3 linked regions of the Homo sapiens genome follow. The protein of the gene in region 1 interacts with the protein of each later gene in a pairwise test. Each region holds a gene or a part of one and is shown in the gene's direction. Other genes may lie near its edges. The genes, in order: RABEPK, POR and TMEM98.

What was found.
Region 2: the proteins of RABEPK (region 1) and POR interact in a two-hybrid assay, tested with the Homo sapiens proteins (one large-scale study listed by BioGRID and IntAct).
Region 3: the proteins of RABEPK (region 1) and TMEM98 interact in a two-hybrid assay, tested with the Homo sapiens proteins (one large-scale study listed by BioGRID and IntAct).

Annotation. Positions count from the first base shown.
Region 1 is NC_000009.12:125,217,496-125,221,145, forward strand, and holds part of RABEPK (rab9 effector protein with kelch motifs), read left to right. Parts: intron 1-3,043; coding exon 3,044-3,205; intron 3,206-3,650. UniProt on the Homo sapiens protein: Rab9 effector required for endosome to trans-Golgi network (TGN) transport.
Region 2 is NC_000007.14:75,953,098-75,956,747, forward strand, and holds part of POR (NADPH--cytochrome P450 reductase), read left to right. Parts: intron 1-891; 5' UTR 892-904; coding exon 905-1,083; intron 1,084-3,650. UniProt on the Homo sapiens protein: This enzyme is required for electron transfer from NADP to cytochrome P450 in microsomes. It can also provide electron transfer to heme oxygenase and cytochrome B5.
Region 3 is NC_000017.11:32,938,086-32,941,566, forward strand, and holds part of TMEM98 (transmembrane protein 98), read left to right. Parts: intron 1-1,391; coding exon 1,392-1,451; intron 1,452-2,700; coding exon 2,701-2,908; 3' UTR 2,909-3,481. UniProt on the Homo sapiens protein: Functions as a negative regulator of MYRF in oligodendrocyte differentiation and myelination. Interacts with the C-terminal of MYRF inhibiting MYRF self-cleavage and N-fragment nuclear translocation.

The DNA of each region.
Region 1 (3,650 bases):
GTTCAAATGATTCTCCAGCCTCAGCCTCTCGAGTAGCTGGGATTACAGGCACATGCCACCATGCCCAGCTAATTTTTATATTAAAGAGGGTGATTTTCTATCATATCCCTTTTCTCTCCTAGAAAATATAATTTGACATCATGCCCAAGAAATATGAAATATGTACTTAGTTGCATTTGTTACCAAGGCAAGTCCCTCAAATGCTCAGGACTCCTTTGTGATTCTTTGTGCTGGTGTTTGAGTTGGCAGGAATACAGCCCTAGGGTCTTCTGGGCCTGGAGGTGACATGTATACCTTTCTAGCTCCCTCTAAGATCCAAAAGCTCTCCAACATCTGTAACTATAGAGACAGCTACATTTTGCTTTGGATATAGGCTGAGACTTTTTCAGTCTCCAGGTCCCCATTTGAGTCCCACACATATTACAGATGTTTCCTGTAGCATTTTATATATTGGATGTAGACCTTTTACAAAAGACAGAATTTCTTGGTGTGTTATGGTAGAGCAAGTGTGGGACTCTGATAGAACTGAGTTCAGGCCCGGCGCGGTAGCTCACGCCTGTAATCTCAGCACTTTGGGAGGCCGAGGCGGGCAGATCAGGAGGTCAGGAGCTCGAGACCATCCTGGCTAACACGGTGAAACTCCGTCTCTACTAAAAAAAAAAAAAATACAAAAAATTAGCCGGGCATGGTGGCGGATGCCTGTAGTCCCAGCTGCTCGGGAGGCTGAAGCAGGAGAATGGCGTGAACCCGGGAGGCGGAGCTTGCAAAGTGAGCCGAGATCGCGCCACTGCACTCTGGGCTGGGAGCCACAGCGAGACTCCGTCTCAAAAAAAAAAAAAAAAAAAAAAAAAAAGAACTGAGTTCAAACTCCTGCTCTGCTACGCACATATGCTATAACCTGCAGGAAAGGATTTAAATGTGCAGAGCTTCAGTTTCCTCATCTAAAAGTAGAGATACTTCCGCTCACTTCCCAAGCTTGAGTGAAGACACCAGGGATGGCAGTGCCCAGGGCAATGATGCTGCCCATTGAGGGTGCTCAATTAATGCATCTGCTTCTATAAAACCCAGGTTCATCCTTAAAAGAAATAAGCTTCTATACATCTATCTAGGTGGTGAAATTTTATTCTCCAGTCAGAGGAGTGGGAATTAGAAAGATCTTGGTGTTACTGAAAGAGTTTAAATTCCAACTCAGCCATTTCTTAGGCATGTCACTTTATCTGTCTCTCTCTCTCTCTCTTTCTCTCTCTCTTTCTTTGCCTTATTCTGTAACCCAGGCTGGAGTTGCAGTGGTGTGATCTTGACTCACTGCAACCTCAACCGCTGCAGGCTCAGTATATCCTCCCACCTAAGCTTCTCAGGTAGCTGGGACTATAGGCATACGCCACCACACCCGACTAATTTTTTTTTGTATTTTTTTGTAGAGACAGGGTTTTGCCATGTTGCCCAGGCTGGTCTCAAACTCCTGGGCTCAAGCAATCCACCTGCCCCAGCCTGCTAAAGTGTTGGGATTACAGGCATGAGCCACCGAGCCTGGCTAGCCATGTCTCTTTTAAAAAGTTACTTAATCCATCCCTACTTCAATTCTCTTACCTGTAAAATGCGGAAATTAATATTTGTTTAGCATTTACTGTTTAGTAGGGACTGTTATTACTGCTACTGAAATGTAATAGTATTGTCTTTTTTTTTTTTTCATTTCTTTCTTTCTTTTTTTTTTTTTTCAAGATATGGTCTTACTCTTTTACCCAGGCTAGAGTGCAATGGCACGATCATAGTTCATTGCAGCCTCAAACTCCTGGGCTCAAGCAATCCTCCTGCCTTGGCTTCCCAAAGTGCTAGGGTTACAGGCCTTACAGCCACTGTGCTCAGCCTAATTTTTTTTAATTTTTAATTTATTTTATTTTATTATTATTATTTTTTAAGATGAAGTCTCGCTTTGTCAACCAGGCTGGAGTGCAGTGGCATGATCTCAGCTCACTGCATCCTCCGCCTCCTGGTTCAAGTGATTCTCCTGTCTCAGCCTCCTGAGTAGCTGGGATTATAGGTCCCCACCACGACACCTGGCTTTATTTATTTATTTATTTATTTTTAGTAGAGATGGGATTTCACCATGTTGGCCAGGCTGGTCTAGAACTCCTACCCTCAAGTGATCCACCCACCTTGGTCTCCCAAAGTGCTGGGATTACAAGCGTGAGCCACTGCACCCCTGGCTGATTTTTTGTAGAGACAGGATATTGCTTTGTTTCCCAGTCTGGTCACAAACTCCTGGGCTCAAGCAATCCTCCTACCTCGATTTCCCAAACTGCTGAGGTTACAGGTGTTAGCTGCTGCACATGGCCTGCCTACTTTCTTTTATTGGCCACATTTTCTGGGAAATCTGGCACACCTGGACTCTGGCATCTAGTGGGAATGAATGTTAGCAGATGTTAGGGGGAGCGATAGTGAGCAAAGTAGAAGAGGGTTCAGAGAGGATATTTGAAGGCCTCCAAAACAAATTGACCTCTTTTTTTTCTTCTTTTTTTTTAATATGGAGCCTTGCTCTGTCACCCAGGCTGGAGTGCAGTGGTGCAATCTCAGCTCACTGCAACCTTCACCTCCTGGGTTCAAGCGATTCTCCTGCCTCAACCTCCTGAGGAGCTGGGATTACAGGTCCCCACCACCATACCCGGCTAATTTTTCAGATTTTTAGTAGAGATGGGGTTTTACCCCATGTTGGCCAGGCTGGTTTCGAACTCCTGACCTCAAGTGATCCGCCCGCCTTGGCCTCCCAAAGTGCTGGGATTACAGGCATGAGCCACACTGCACCCAGCCTGACTCCATTCTTGTGCTTACAGCTTTTAAATCTTGGGGATTTTGGACTGTCTTGGCAAATCCTAAGTATCATCTTCATTCTTCCTTGATGTTTGTGAGTATGAGATCCCTGCCCAAAACTATGCTGGCCCCCCTGGGGATTGGAGTTTGGAAACTGACTTCACTCAGCCCCAGAGTCAAGGTCAGAAGCCCCTCTACCTGGATATTTTAAGTGCCTGCATTCTCTCTGGCCCAGAAACCAGGACGTGGACCACGCCAGAAGTGACCAGCCCCCCACCATCCCCAAGAACATTCCACACATCATCGGCAGCCATTGGAAACCAGCTATATGTCTTTGGGGGCGGAGAGAGAGGTGCCCAGCCCGTGCAGGACACGAAGCTGCATGTGTTTGACGCAAGTATGGACTGGTGGGCACCTTGGGGCTGGTCAGGGCCATCCCAGTTTACACATTACCTAATATAGGAAGCAGAAGTTAGAAAAGGAAAGCCTGACTAAGTGTCTCACTTCTAGACTTCTTTGTTATATCTCTTAGCTGATATCTTTTTCCCACAGCAAAATTGGCATTTAAAAAGGGATAGTGAGGCCTGGCATGGTGGCTCACACCTGTAATCCCAGAGCTTTGGAAGGCTGAGGCAGGTGGACCGCTTAAGGTCAGGAGTTCGAGAACAGCCTGGCCAACATACCTTTTCTCTACTAAAAACACAAAAATTATCCGGGCATGATGGTATGCACCTGTAATCCCAGTTACTCAGGAGGCTGAGGCAGGAGAATCGCTTAAACCCAGGAGGAGGAAGTTTCAGTGAGCCAAGATTGGGCCACTGCACTCAGCCTGGGCAACAGAG
Region 2 (3,650 bases), on another chromosome or scaffold:
CTCGCGGTTAGGAGCTGGAGACCAGCCCGGCCAACACAGCGAAACCCCGTTTCCACCAAAAAAATACGAGAACCAGTCAGGCGTGGCGGCGCGCGCCTGCAATCGCAGGCACTCGGCAGGCTGAGGCAGGAGAATCAGGCAGGGAGGTTGCAGTGAGCCGAGATGGCAGCAGTACAGTCCAGCTTCGGCTGGGCATCAGAGGGAGACCGTGGAAAGAGGGAGGGGGAGGGGGAGGGGGAGGGACCAGACTTTGTCTCTTAAAAAAAAAAAAAAAAGACTCCCAGGCATAGGAAAGCAGGCATTCACCATAAATCTCATTGTTAACAGGAACTACCTTCATAGCCCAAGGTTTTAGGAATACAGAGACACTCTTGCCAGTCAGGATAGTCCAAGGCTCGTGAATATCAGGAGCCACTCAAGGGCCAGGCCTGGAGACTTGGAACATGCAGGGTTTAGGGCAACCCCCGCCAGCCACACAGCTGGGGAAAGGGTTTGCTGCGAAATGGTCCACTCTTGCGTGCACTTCCTCCCGCCTGCCCCCCGTGCGGTGTCCTTGTGGGATTAGAGGATGTTCCAGCACACTGAGAGTCAGTGGCTGTCATTTTCTCTGTCTTCCAGGGACCCAGTCCCAGCTGCTGCCTTAGCTTGCACCCCAGGACCACCCTGGGCTGGTGCTGACACCACTGGGGGCTGTCTGTTATGTCAGCCCCAGTCCAAGACTGTGGCTGTCTTGGCAGGAACCTGGCTGAGTGAGCCCCTTCTCCTACCCCGTGCAGTGACCATTTCCTGCAGCCCCAGGGGCAAGGCCCAGCATTTAGGTGGGCACCCCAGCCAGCCTCAGGGGCACCCTGCTACCCTCTGCTGACATCTGCTGTTTCTGTCTCCTAACAGTTTCATGATCAACATGGGAGACTCCCACGTGGACACCAGCTCCACCGTGTCCGAGGCGGTGGCCGAAGAAGTATCTCTTTTCAGCATGACGGACATGATTCTGTTTTCGCTCATCGTGGGTCTCCTAACCTACTGGTTCCTCTTCAGAAAGAAAAAAGAAGAAGTCCCCGAGTTCACCAAAATTCAGACATTGTAAGTGCCGCCTCTCAGCCTCCTCTCTCTGTCCCTCTTCTGTCACCACTCCAAGCAGTGTCCTGCATGCGGGCCTCAGGCTGAAAGAAGCAAGGCTCCTTGTAGCATTTTGGGGTGACTCTTGGGTTTTGCCTTCTTGCTAGATTGTGCTTGAGCTCTCCCTTAATCATCTCTTATGTGGGGTTTATAAGGCCCTTTTCTATCTGCTGTTTATATGACCTTCACAGGAAGCACTGCGAAAATGACACCAGTTTACAGATTAAGAACCGGGGGCTCAAGAATGTTAACGGGCCTGCCAGGGTCATTAGCCAGCAATAGCAGCGCTAGAGCTGGAACCCTTTTTTCCATTTATTTATTTATTTATTTATTTGGAGACATGGTCTCACTGTATTGCCCAGGCTGGAGTGCAATGGCGGTGGCACGATCAAGGTTCACTGTAATCTCCACCTCCCAGGCTCAGGCAGTCTTCCCACCTCAGCCTCCCGAGTAGCTGGGACTAAAGGTGTGCACCACTATGCCCAGCTAATTTTTTTTTTTTTTTTTTTGAAGCAGAATCTTGTTCTTTCAACCAGTCTGGAGTACAGCGGTGCGATCTCGGCTCACTGCAACCTCTGCCTCCCAGGCTCAAGCAATTCTTCTGCCTCAGCCTCCTGAGTAGCTTGGATTACAGGTGCCCGCCACCACGCCTGGCTATTTTTTGTATTTTTAGTAGAGACAGGGTCTCACCATGTTGGCCAGGCTGGTCTCAAACTCCTGACCTCAAGTGATCCGCCCACCTCGGCCTCCCAAAGTGCTGGGATTACAGGTGTGAGCCGTTGCGCCCAGTCAATTTTTGTATTTTTTTATAGAGACAGGGATTTGCCATGTCCCGGGCTGGTCTCGAACACCTGGACTCAAGCAATCCGCACACCTTGGTCTCCCAGAGTGTCGGGATTACAGGCGTGAGCCACTGTACCCAGCCTAGAATTGGCATTTTAAAGTCTTTTTAAGGCTGTAGCCACCTGGAAGGCTATGTGCTAATGAGCACAAAATCTTTGGACAGGCCTTATTTTGTTGCTCTTTTAAACTTTTCATGAAGCTTCCTTTTAAGAATAAGTGAAAAAGATGGATTAGTTAAAAGAAAAACGTTAAGGAAATAATAGTATAGATGGTATGTAGACAGAAAAAAATGATACCGAAGGTCTGCCTAAGTGACTGCATCCCTGTCTCTCCAAGATTGATTTCCATAAGCCACACGGAAAAGTCATTCTCCAGATTTTAGGGTCCTGCGGCCAGAATTACTTCCTGCGGTTACGCTTGGCTGTGTTTAACACCAGTCTCAGACTCCAGGGGCCCGCAGCCAGGTTTGAGTGGGGACCTGCCAGGTCAGGTCTGAGCCGAGGGAACTCCAGGGGCACGGGCCTGCTGCCTTCAGGGACTCCCTGGATTTGGCAAGGGGCAGGTCTCAGGGGCAGGATTGGGAGCCATTCTCAGACCAGAACCCCTTTCATTCTGTCTGTCTTCAGGGGACCCAGTCCCAGCTGCAGCCTTAGCTTGCACCCCAGGGCCACCCTGGGCTGGTGCTGACACCAGTGGGGGCCATCTGTCATGTCAGTTCCAGTCCAAGGCTGTGGCTGTCTTGGCAGGAACAAGCCACACAGAAAAGTCATTCTCCAAGGCTGGGCATGGTGAAGCATGCCGCTCACATCAAATCCCGATTCCCTATTCCAATCTGGGTATCAGCCTTCCCCGCCAGAACACTTACAGCCTTCACACCGTAAAGCAGATATTCACACAACACAGTTCTTATACCATGGACAGGGAATTAGTTTTACATTTTTAAAAACTGGGTTCAGGGCCAGGCACAGCGGCTCACGTCTGTAATTCCACCACTTTGGGAGGCCGAGGCGGGAGAAATCACTTGAGGTCAGGAGTTCGAGACCAGCCTGGCCAACATGGCGAAACCCCGTCTCTACCGAAAATACAAAAACTAGCTGGGCGTGGTGGTGCATGCCTGTAATTTCAGCTACTAGGGAAGCTGAGGCAGAAGAATCGCTTGAACCCAGGAGGCAGAGGTTGCAGTGAGCCAAGAATGCGCCACTGCATTCCAGCCTGGGAGACAGAGTCCGTCTCAAAAACAAAACAAAACAAAACAAAACTGGGTTCAATCTTATCTCCATCATTGACTCACTGAGCAAACATTTCCTGAGGCCCTACCTACAGTGTCCCAGACACTATGCTAAGGTGTGTGGCTGCAGCAGTGAAGAAAATAGATGAATGCTGTCTTCATCAAGCTTACGCTCTAGTGGTGAGTGAACCCTGGGCGAGACCTTAACCTCATTCTGCCTCAGTTTCCTCACCTGCTAAATGGAGGCAGTATTCCCAATCTTGTGGGGCTTTTGTCTTAAATGAGGAAGAGTCTATAAACTCACCTAGCACTGCCCCTGAGGGATAGGAGCTGTGTAGTGTTTGCGTTGATCGTATTTCGTGCCAGGCACTATGACGGGCACGATCAGGACCACAGAGCCAGCATTTATGTTAAGCTGGAAAATGAGGGTGTTGCAACATAGTTTTTTTTTTTTTGAGAC
Region 3 (3,481 bases), on another chromosome or scaffold:
TGTGGCATTGTCCAGAGAGTGGACCTGTTCTGGTGCTCACAGGCCCATCCTAAAGAGTACCTTGGACTACTTCTAGAATGCTCCGTGCCATAATTCAGCCAGGGTCCTGCTTTGTCCTTTTGCCCTCACACTTCTTTCTCCTTCTGGCCATGTTTTGTCCCCATTGTTTTTCCTGCTCCATTTATCCCACACAGTGTGTTGATGGCCTGTGAGTCTCGAGGAGGTGGCTTCAGCTCCAGGGCACTAGAGAAAGGAGCTGGCTGAGATAGGCGCGGAGGGTGACTGTGTCTCTGCATGTCCTCACCGGCTCCACAGCCGTGAATAAGAGTGTTTGAGGCCATCTTTTTTTCAAGTGCTTTTAGAAATCAAACAATACATCTTTATTTTTTCTTCCTATCGAGTGTTCATGAGCAAAGATTTGGAGCAAAACCTTGTGCCACGCAAATCAGAATGAATTGTAGTTCTGAACTTGATTTAAAAAAATTAACCACAGGGTAGAAGAAATCCAGTAGAGCAGTGTGAAGCCAAATGAAACTCATGGCCTTCTTTTTCGGTGTCTTACATACCTTTAGCTTTGTATTTTTTTTTCCTGAATACAAGAGTAATTAATGCTTATAAAAATGTGAAATACTGCAGACATACATGACCTGGAAAGTCTACTCCCTCCCAATTGTAGGAAAAAACCACTATTAAGTGGTGAGTGTTCCTCCAGATCCTTCCCAACCCCACATTTCAGAGCTTTTGTTTATCTATTTTTATGCAAATGACAGATTGAGCTTTACATATTATTTGGCAATTTGCCTTTTTAATATAGTAGTAATCTTGAACATCATTCCATATGTATGACTGTATTTTAAAAAACCATTGGAACTGAAACAAAACTAGAAAACAAAGTAGTCTCTGCAAAGACTGAACCTGAAGTCTTTGTGCCTAAGTGTCTGTCTGAGAATGCAGAAGCAATTGGAGAAAGAACCATTAAAGACCAGGTCTGGAATACCAAAAAAGAAGAACTGGAATAAAGATAGAAAGGAAGGAAGGGGCCAGGCGTGTGGCTCACGTGCCTGTAATCCCAGCACTATGGAAGGCTGAGGTGGGTGGATCACCTGAGGTCAGGAGTTCAAGGCTAGCCTGGCCAACATGGTGAAACCCCGTCTCTACTAAAAATACAAAAATTAGCTGGGCATGGTGGCGCGTGCCTGTAATCCCAGCTACTTGGGAAGCTGAGGCAGGAGAATCACTTGAGCCTGGGAGGTGGATGTTGCAGTGAGCTGAGATAGCACCACTGCACTCCAGCCTGGGTGACAGAGCGAGACTCTGTCTCAGGAAAAAAAAAAAAAGGAGAAAAGGAGATCAGGAAAGTGAAGTACTGAACACCTTTTGCCTCCGGTCAGGGTGGATGATGTTGTGAAGTCGATGTACCCTCCGTTGGACCCCAAACTCCTGGACGCACGGTGAGACCAGGGGTGGGTGCATGTTCGGTTTTTCATGCAGAGGTCCACAACCGTTTTATCAGATCTGTGAGGCTGGCTGACTGGCTTGTGTAGGGAGGGTGGCTTTGCAGCCTCCTTAGGCTGCCCGGGCCATGCGTGCCATTTACTTCAGTGAGCGGCGCCTGACTGGGTGATAGAGGCCAGTCCTCTCCTGAAACCCAGGAGAAGAAAGAGGCAGTCTTAGATTTTAAATTGTTATGATTAGACTTCCGGCCATGTTACATCCTAACTGTGCCTTCCCTTCTACCTTTTCCCCTTTCCCCCTCTGATTTTTGTACCCCAGAAGCAGACATGCCTTAGCTGTGAGTGCCACCCAGTTGGGCGGTGGGGCAGTGGTTCCCAGAGCAGTGAGAATGGAGGTGACAGGTCAGCCACAGCTGTGCTCACCTGCCACCAGACATGCGCATACACAGAGTGTACTTAGCCCTATGAAATTGTTATGTTCCTATACCAGATGCAACCCATTTAAGAAATATAGATTCTTTCGTGCCTTGGATTTATATGACTGTGTCATACACATGTAACAGTTGCCAGATCGGCAGTGGGTCACAGCGCTTCAGCTTTGGTTTCTCTGCCCCACTCCTACTGCTGCCGAGCTTTGTCCGTGGGTTAATAATCTGTAATGTATTCTCAAATGCATCATGGTACTAACCATATAAAAGGTATTCTACAGTGAATCTTTCAGCACTGAAAAATCTACTCCTCACTTTGGTTTTCAGTTACATTTTTTTTTTTGAGTTGGATAAACCAGCCCTGGGCCTTACCAATTTGTAATCAATAAGGAATGTTTAAGTGAGGGTGTGTCTGTCCTATGTTTCAGTGGGCAGCGGTTGGGGAATATGCTCATCTGATTGACTATATCTGAACTGTTTCACAAAGCGCTCTTTGGGGAGATGTTAATAGGTGTGCTGCAGAAAATGGCTTCCACAGTCTTAAATAAGCTTGTGAGAGACAGCCTGTTATATTCTCCTTGGAGCTTTACCAGGTACATCTCAGAAGGCTCTGAGGCAGGCTTCAGTTAACCATGTTTAACCCAGCCATCTCCAAATTTATTTGAGCATGGAGCCAACTTTAAATTGCATACCTACCAACATCCTAGGGAAGGGTGTGCAGTTTGGGGAATACTAGTCAAAAAGTCTATCTATTTGGGCTTTTGTGCAAAGTCCCTCATTTCCTAGGAAACCTGACCCTATTTTCTTTTTTTCCCTAGGACGACTGCCCTGCTCCTGTCTGTCAGTCACCTGGTGCTGGTGACAAGGAATGCCTGCCATCTGACGGGAGGCCTGGACTGGATTGACCAGTCTCTGTCGGCTGCTGAGGAGCATTTGGAAGTCCTTCGAGAAGCAGCCCTAGCTTCTGAGCCAGATAAAGGCCTCCCAGGCCCTGAAGGCTTCCTGCAGGAGCAGTCTGCAATTTAGTGCCTACAGGCCAGCAGCTAGCCATGAAGGCCCCTGCCGCCATCCCTGGATGGCTCAGCTTAGCCTTCTACTTTTTCCTATAGAGTTAGTTGTTCTCCACGGCTGGAGAGTTCAGCTGTGTGTGCATAGTAAAGCAGGAGATCCCCGTCAGTTTATGCCTCTTTTGCAGTTGCAAACTGTGGCTGGTGAGTGGCAGTCTAATACTACAGTTAGGGGAGATGCCATTCACTCTCTGCAAGAGGAGTATTGAAAACTGGTGGACTGTCAGCTTTATTTAGCTCACCTAGTGTTTTCAAGAAAATTGAGCCACCGTCTAAGAAATCAAGAGGTTTCACATTAAAATTAGAATTTCTGGCCTCTCTCGATCGGTCAGAATGTGTGGCAATTCTGATCTGCATTTTCAGAAGAGGACAATCAATTGAAACTAAGTAGGGGTTTCTTCTTTTGGCAAGACTTGTACTCTCTCACCTGGCCTGTTTCATTTATTTGTATTATCTGCCTGGTCCCTGAGGCGTCTGGGTCTCTCCTCTCCCTTGCAGGTTTGGGTTTGAAGCTGAGGAACTACAAAGTTGA